Linked DNA regions of Homo sapiens. The protein of the gene in region 1 purifies or fractionates together with the protein of each later gene. This does not show direct contact. Each region holds a gene or a part of one and is shown on either strand. Other genes may lie near its edges.

The links.
Region 2: the proteins of OR52N5 (region 1) and CD226 purify together in Homo sapiens (affinity purification with mass spectrometry; one large-scale study listed by BioGRID and IntAct). This does not show direct contact.

Annotation. Positions count from the first base shown.
Region 1 is NC_000011.10:5,775,537-5,778,218, forward strand, and holds the end of OR52N5 (olfactory receptor 52N5), read right to left. Parts: coding exon 2,124-2,682; 3' UTR 629-2,123; downstream 1-628. UniProt on the Homo sapiens protein: Odorant receptor.
Region 2 is NC_000018.10:69,941,279-69,945,114, forward strand, and holds part of CD226 (CD226 antigen isoform a precursor), read right to left. Parts: intron 1-3,836.

The DNA.
Region 1 (2,682 bases):
AACAGAACTCTTTGTCTCCCTAGTAAATAGGGTTTTTTTTTCATGATTTATATTCTGGTTTAAATACCATCTCTCTGTGACTCTCTTACTCTCTCAAGGTTAGAGGATCATTTTCTGTGCTGTTTCAGCACTTGTGCAAACTCTCTTATAAAGCTCCTCTAAACTATAGTTTAATTGAATGTATATGTTTACTTGAGAGATTAAATTTTCATTTACTCTTTTATTCATCTCCTACTAAAATGTTCCAGTTAACATGATCACTCCTTTTCTTTTTTAGTTTGAATAGACTATTTGACTCTATCACCCTGCTTTCCGTTAAGATGATTAGCATAGCACTGAATTCAACACATTTTTATTAATATTTCACCCCTTAGCTAGACTGTGGGCTTCTTTGTAACAAGGAGAATGTTTATATTTTTCTAATGGTTAATATCTAACATAAGGCCTAACTAATGTAGACTCATTCATCTAGTCATTTAATGAATATTTGTTTTATTTATACCTTTGAGTTGCATTTTGTCAGAGCCTGAAATACAAAGACAAATACATACCTAGTGCTTTCAAATACAACATGTTGTAGTATACAATGAACAGATGTGTAAACAAATAAACTTATTATAAGAGTGTTGTGATAATATAGTGTGTGTGACAACCAGGAAGAGGTAATGATAAGTTCTATTTTAAGATTTAGCTGAGTTGATAAAAATATTCAGAAATATGGGAAATGAAATAACTAACAAATGAAGCATGAATGAATGAATCAGTGAATCAATGATTTAATCAATCATTTCACCAATTGGTTGACATTTAACTGGGAAAGCCATACCATATACCAACTAGCTCCTGCACTGACTTCTGGTGTACGCAAGCCTTGAGGTAAATAAGACTTGTCTGTCCATTCTAATATATACATAAAAATATTTCTCAAAATTAATTCATAAACCTAATTTTAGCTTCAAAGACTGACTGGGCTGGAAAATGTTCTATAGGAAAGATTATCAACATAGACAAGACACTTAAGGACTCTTTCAAAGTTTAAGAATATATCCAAGATGAATATATTAGATAAAAGTTGTGTGAATTCATACCAACGACTTGATTAAAACGGGCAATGTAACTTTTGTCTTTCTGTGGCTGGCTTATTTCATTTAACATGCTAATTTCCAGCTTCATCCATGATGCTGCAAATTACAGAATTTCATCATTTTTTATGATGCCACATTTTCTTTATCCACTTCTCTGTTGATGGACACAGGTTGATTTCATGTCTTGGCTATTGTGAACAATGTTGCAACAAACATGGGAGTGCAGGTATCTGGTATCTCTTCAACATATTGTTTTTCTTTTTTTGGATATATATTGTTGTTCTCATTTATATGTGGGAGCTAAAAAGGTGGATCTCAAGGAGATAGAGAGTAGACTGGTGGTTACCAGATGCTGGGAATGGTGGGAGGAAGAGAGGATGAAAAGAGGTTAATTAATAGGTACTAAAATACAGTTAAAAAGAATAAGACATAGTGTTCAATAGTACAGTGGATAACTGTAGTTAACAATAATTTATTACGTGTTTCAACATGGCTCAAAGAGAATTTGAATGTTTCCAATAAAAAGAAAAGATAAATGTTTGAGGTGATGGATATTCTAATTACCTTGATTGAATTATTACACATTTTATGCATGTATCAAAATATCATTTGCACCTCCCAAATGTGTAAAACTATTATGTATCAATTTAAAAAATTTAGAAAAATAACACGTGATTTTTAAAAAAACACCATTCTACTTTTTACTTCTATGAATTGAACTAGTTTTAGCCATTCTGTAAGGTTTATATATATTTAAAACATTATGTTATATATGACATATTTAACTTTATGTGTCAATTTAAATAAATTGAGTTAAACTCATTTTTTAAAAACTGGCAATAGACAAAAATTAAGGGAAAGGCACTGAGATATACATCCAGAATGGGCTATAAATTTCCCCAAAACAGTTTCAGAAAACATAGACTGAGAGAGAAAATGTATGATACTACACATGAATAAATGTAAAATATCACACGTAAGTTTATTCTTTGTTATTTTTCATTTATCTTTCTTCCATCTGAATTAAGTTGCCTTGAATCAACCTGCACCCTTATCACCCTGGAAGAACTTTATGACACTCTTGCGTATCTGTTTTGTCTTTACTCCATAAACAATAGGGTTTAGAGTTGGGGGAAGAAGAAGATAAAGATTAGCCACAATGATGTGAAGAGAAGGGGGAATTGTGTGTCCCCCAAAACGGTGGGCAAAGAAAGTGAAGAATGCTGGAACATAGGTGATGATGATGGCAGATATATGGGCAGTGCAGGTGCTGAAAGCCTTCTGCCGAGCATCTGATGAAGAGAGGCTGATCGCTGCCTTGAGGATCAAAGTGTAAGACAAAGATATACAACAAATGTCAAACACTCCAATCAGGAGAGCAACCATTAGACCATAGATTACATTGACCTTGATGCTGGCACAAGATAGCTTTACTACAGACATGTGGTCGCAGTACGTATGGGAGATAATATTGCTTTGGCAGAAAGGCAAACGCTTAACCAAGAATGGGAAAGGAATCATCAGCAATACACCCCTCAGGAAGGTGGCAAGCTCAGCCTTGGCAATGATAGGGTTGGTGAGTGTGGTAGCATAACGC
Region 2 (3,836 bases), on another chromosome or scaffold:
GAGCTGTGAGAAGAGGGCCACCATCCTTCAGACCCCACAATCTGAATCTGATCCACAGACGGCTTGCACCATGCAACTGGAGAAGCCACAGACACTCAACACCAGCCTGTGAAAGCAGCCAAGAGGGGAGGCTGTACCCTGCATAGCCAGAGGGGTGGAGCTGCCCAAGACCATGGGTGCCCACCTCTTGCATCAGCATGCCCAGGATGTGGGACATGGAGTCAAAGGAGATCATTTTTGGAACTTGAAGTTTTAATGACTGCCCTACAGGATTTCAGACTTGCATGGAGCTAGTAGCCCCTTTGTTTTGGCCAATTTCTCTCATTTAGAATTGGTGTATTTATCCAATGCCTGTACCCCTCTTTTATCTAGGAAGTAACTAACTTGCTTTTGATTTTACAGGCTCATAGGCGGAAGGTACTTGCCTTGTCTCAGATGAGACTTTGGGCTGTGGACTTTCAGTTAATGCTGGAAAGAGTTAAGACTTTGGGGGACTGTTGGGAGGGTATGGTTGTATTTTGAAATGTGAGGGCATGAGATTTCAGAGGGGCCAGGGGCAAAATGATATAATTTGGCTGTTTCCCCACCCAAATCTCATCTTGTAGTTCCCATAATCCCCATGTATTGTGGGAAGGACCCGGTGGGAGGTAGCTGAATCATGGGGCCAGTCACCTTCATGCTGTTCTGGTGACAGTGAGTGAATTCTCACAAAATCTGATGGTTTTATAAGGGGCTTTTCCCCCACCTCACTCTGCACTTCTCCTTCCTGCTGCCATGTGAAGAAGGACATGTTTGCTCCCCTTTTCACCATGATTGTACGTTTCCTGAGGCCTCCCCAGCCATACTGAACTGTGAGTCAATTAAACCTCTTTCCCTTATAAATTACCCAGTCTTAAGTATTTCTTCACAGCAGTGTGAGAATAGACTAATACATCATGTGAGCCAATTTCTTATAATAAATCTCCATGTATATACACATTGGTTCTCTTTCTCTGGAGAAGCCTGACTAAAATAATAGAGATACCAATTAATCCTCCTGCTAGCAGTGTGTAAAGGTTCCAATCTACAGATGCCTATTTGCTTACCTTGCCTGCAAACTCTTACTCTCCTAAAAGACTGCAGCTAGTGTAATCTTTTAGGTGGTGAAAGAAAAATCTGGTTTTATTTTGTGTGTCTCTCTAAAAACTAGTCAGAGATGTCCCCTGGTCTGCATTACAGACAGAAGTCAAAATTCCATTAGGCACATCAATAACTTTTCGGGTTTATTTCTGACATTCTGCTGCCCTAGTGAGCTGCAACTCCTTTTTCAAGCACAGAATCTACTGTACTAAAGCTTTTCCTGAAACTCTAAAGTATCATAAGCTGAGCCCCTTTGCTGGTGCATGCAGGGAGAGAGTCTCACTCTCACAGTGTCTTCCTTTCCTGGGAGGCTGCCTCTCAGGCCACCTCTGTGGGTGTAGGGGGCCTCAGAGCCCAGGGTGAGAACCACATCTTATCCAAATCCAGTGCCCTAGTCAGAGAAGGCCAGGCTCTGCCTCTTACATGAACTTTACACCTCCACTGTGCCCTTCTTTAAGCCATCAGTACCCCCAGGACACCCTTCCCTCTCTGTCTTCTCTCTTCCCCAGACCCCGGCCTCTCTAATTAAAATATTCCTTCCAATTCTTCAAGGTCCAGCACGACTTTTCTCTACCATGGCCCTCCCTGGTTCATTCCACTGGAGTTAAGATCTCTGGCTCTTCAGAAAAATCAACTGGGGTCATTCTGGTGCTGCCACTTGGCAGCTTGATAACCTTGGACAAGTGAGTCTACCACCCTGAACCTCAGTGTCTTCTGTTGTATTACGGGAACATATTACCTCCCCATAGTGCTTCATAAGGATTAAATGAAATGACACGCAGTTGCATCCTACAGAGCAGGCACCCAGTAAACACTAGGTGGCAGAGCATTCTGAGTGGGTCACTCATTTTGGGGGTATTTCTGTAAATGCAACTATATTTGCTTTAACTGACTAATAAAGCCAGAGACACGTAGGTGACAGTAGTTTTCTCCATGACCTCACAAACTCTGCTAGAAAGGGCTATCTGGAAAATGTGGTCCCCCAAGTCATCTCTGCATATTTTCTCACAAACTAGGTAAAAACAAATGCATTTATTCTTACCATCAGAGTCTCTAAATCAATTGCTAATGAAGAAATGCCTGTTCTGGAAAGAACACATATTTTCAAATAACTTTGTATTAGTAGTACCATTTATTCAGAATAAGATGTCCTGTTTGCTCTTAAACTCTAGGCTGAAAGCTGGAGAGGGGTAGCATTGATAGGAGGTACAAAGGCCAAGGTCTCCTTCTTCAAGGGCCCTGGTGGGTTCCCATGTCCCCCAGGCTGACAGTTACATCAATTTGCAACTTTATCTGCTGGGACATACGTGAAACTTAGGGCCTTGGAAAGACTACTAGACCTCACTGCACTTCAATGTCATCATCTGTAAAATCAGGCAATACAAACGTTCAAGTGCACACAGGAGATTCAAGGAGGAAGTCTATGAAGATCCAGACTATGTAAAATTCCGCACATAATAAGCTATCAATAAATAGCAAAAAATCAACATATTTACAGAGCATAGGGCCCAACTCCTTCATCCTTCTGAAGTTCTTACAATCCATTATACAAACTAGGATTTCTAGATTCCAAGTCTTTTTTTTTTTTTTTTTACTATTTAATGTATTTTCAACTCCCCCTTTACAGTATACAAAAGTACAATATTTGCAATCCCAGTATGTTGTTACTGAAGTACATAAGAAAATTTCAAGCACACCTAAGGTTAATTTTGAAATACAACTAATATTTTTTAAACTCACTATCATTCTTAGTTTAAAAAAGTGAAGCTCTCAAACTCTCAAAATAGGGTAGAATGCCCTCACTAGCCCATTGCATCAATCTGCTCTTTAAAATACAAATAATCAAAACAAGAGCAATGGATCATGGCTAAGGATACCATCATGAAGAATTCAAACTAGACGGACAGCCGGTATTCCTTCCTCTGACTGAAAACTGACTGAAAATCTCCACATTGTATTTTTTTAAGCCCCATGAAGGTGACAGCTCTCTTTTCCTAACCTCAAAAACTAGCAGTAATGACAAATCTGGATGAAAACAACAGGAAATATTCCGAAGACTATTCATATGTGATGTTAAAAATCCTACCTTTGCATAACAACCATCATTTAGTTCTCTACAGGTTAGCTCCATCCTCTATCCTGAAAGGTTGAGCTGTTTTCAATTGGTTGTCCTGTGACAGAAACCAAAACAGCTAATTTGGAACCCAAACTTTAAAGGCATACCACACAAGGCAGCAGTGGGGAGTGCATCCTGTTCTAGCTTTGGTGGCTCAGGCCTTGTTTCCAATGGCTCAGTCTATGTTAAAAGCTTTGCCAATCTTCTACTTCGCCTGCCTGACTGATTTATAGCAAACTACACAGTAAAAACTTCCAAGCAGGATTTAACAGGTGTCTACATACAACAGCAAATGAGGACTTGTATGGTGAAACAGAGTCTTTAATAAATAAACATTTAACTAAAGAAACATTGTAAATTGACACTCTATAAGCCTCAGCTATATACACAAAATTAGTCTTCACCCTAGCTACACCTAAAGAGAAAGGGAAAACTAAATATATGAAGATGTTTCTTATCTCCTGACCATTTGATATTCCTCATATAATTCTGTACTTGTTCTTTTAGAGCACAGATCCCTTAAAAATAAAGCACTATTATGTCAGATGTCATAAAATGTTCTTCTCTGTACAGCCATGAGTATAATTTGAGAGACACCACA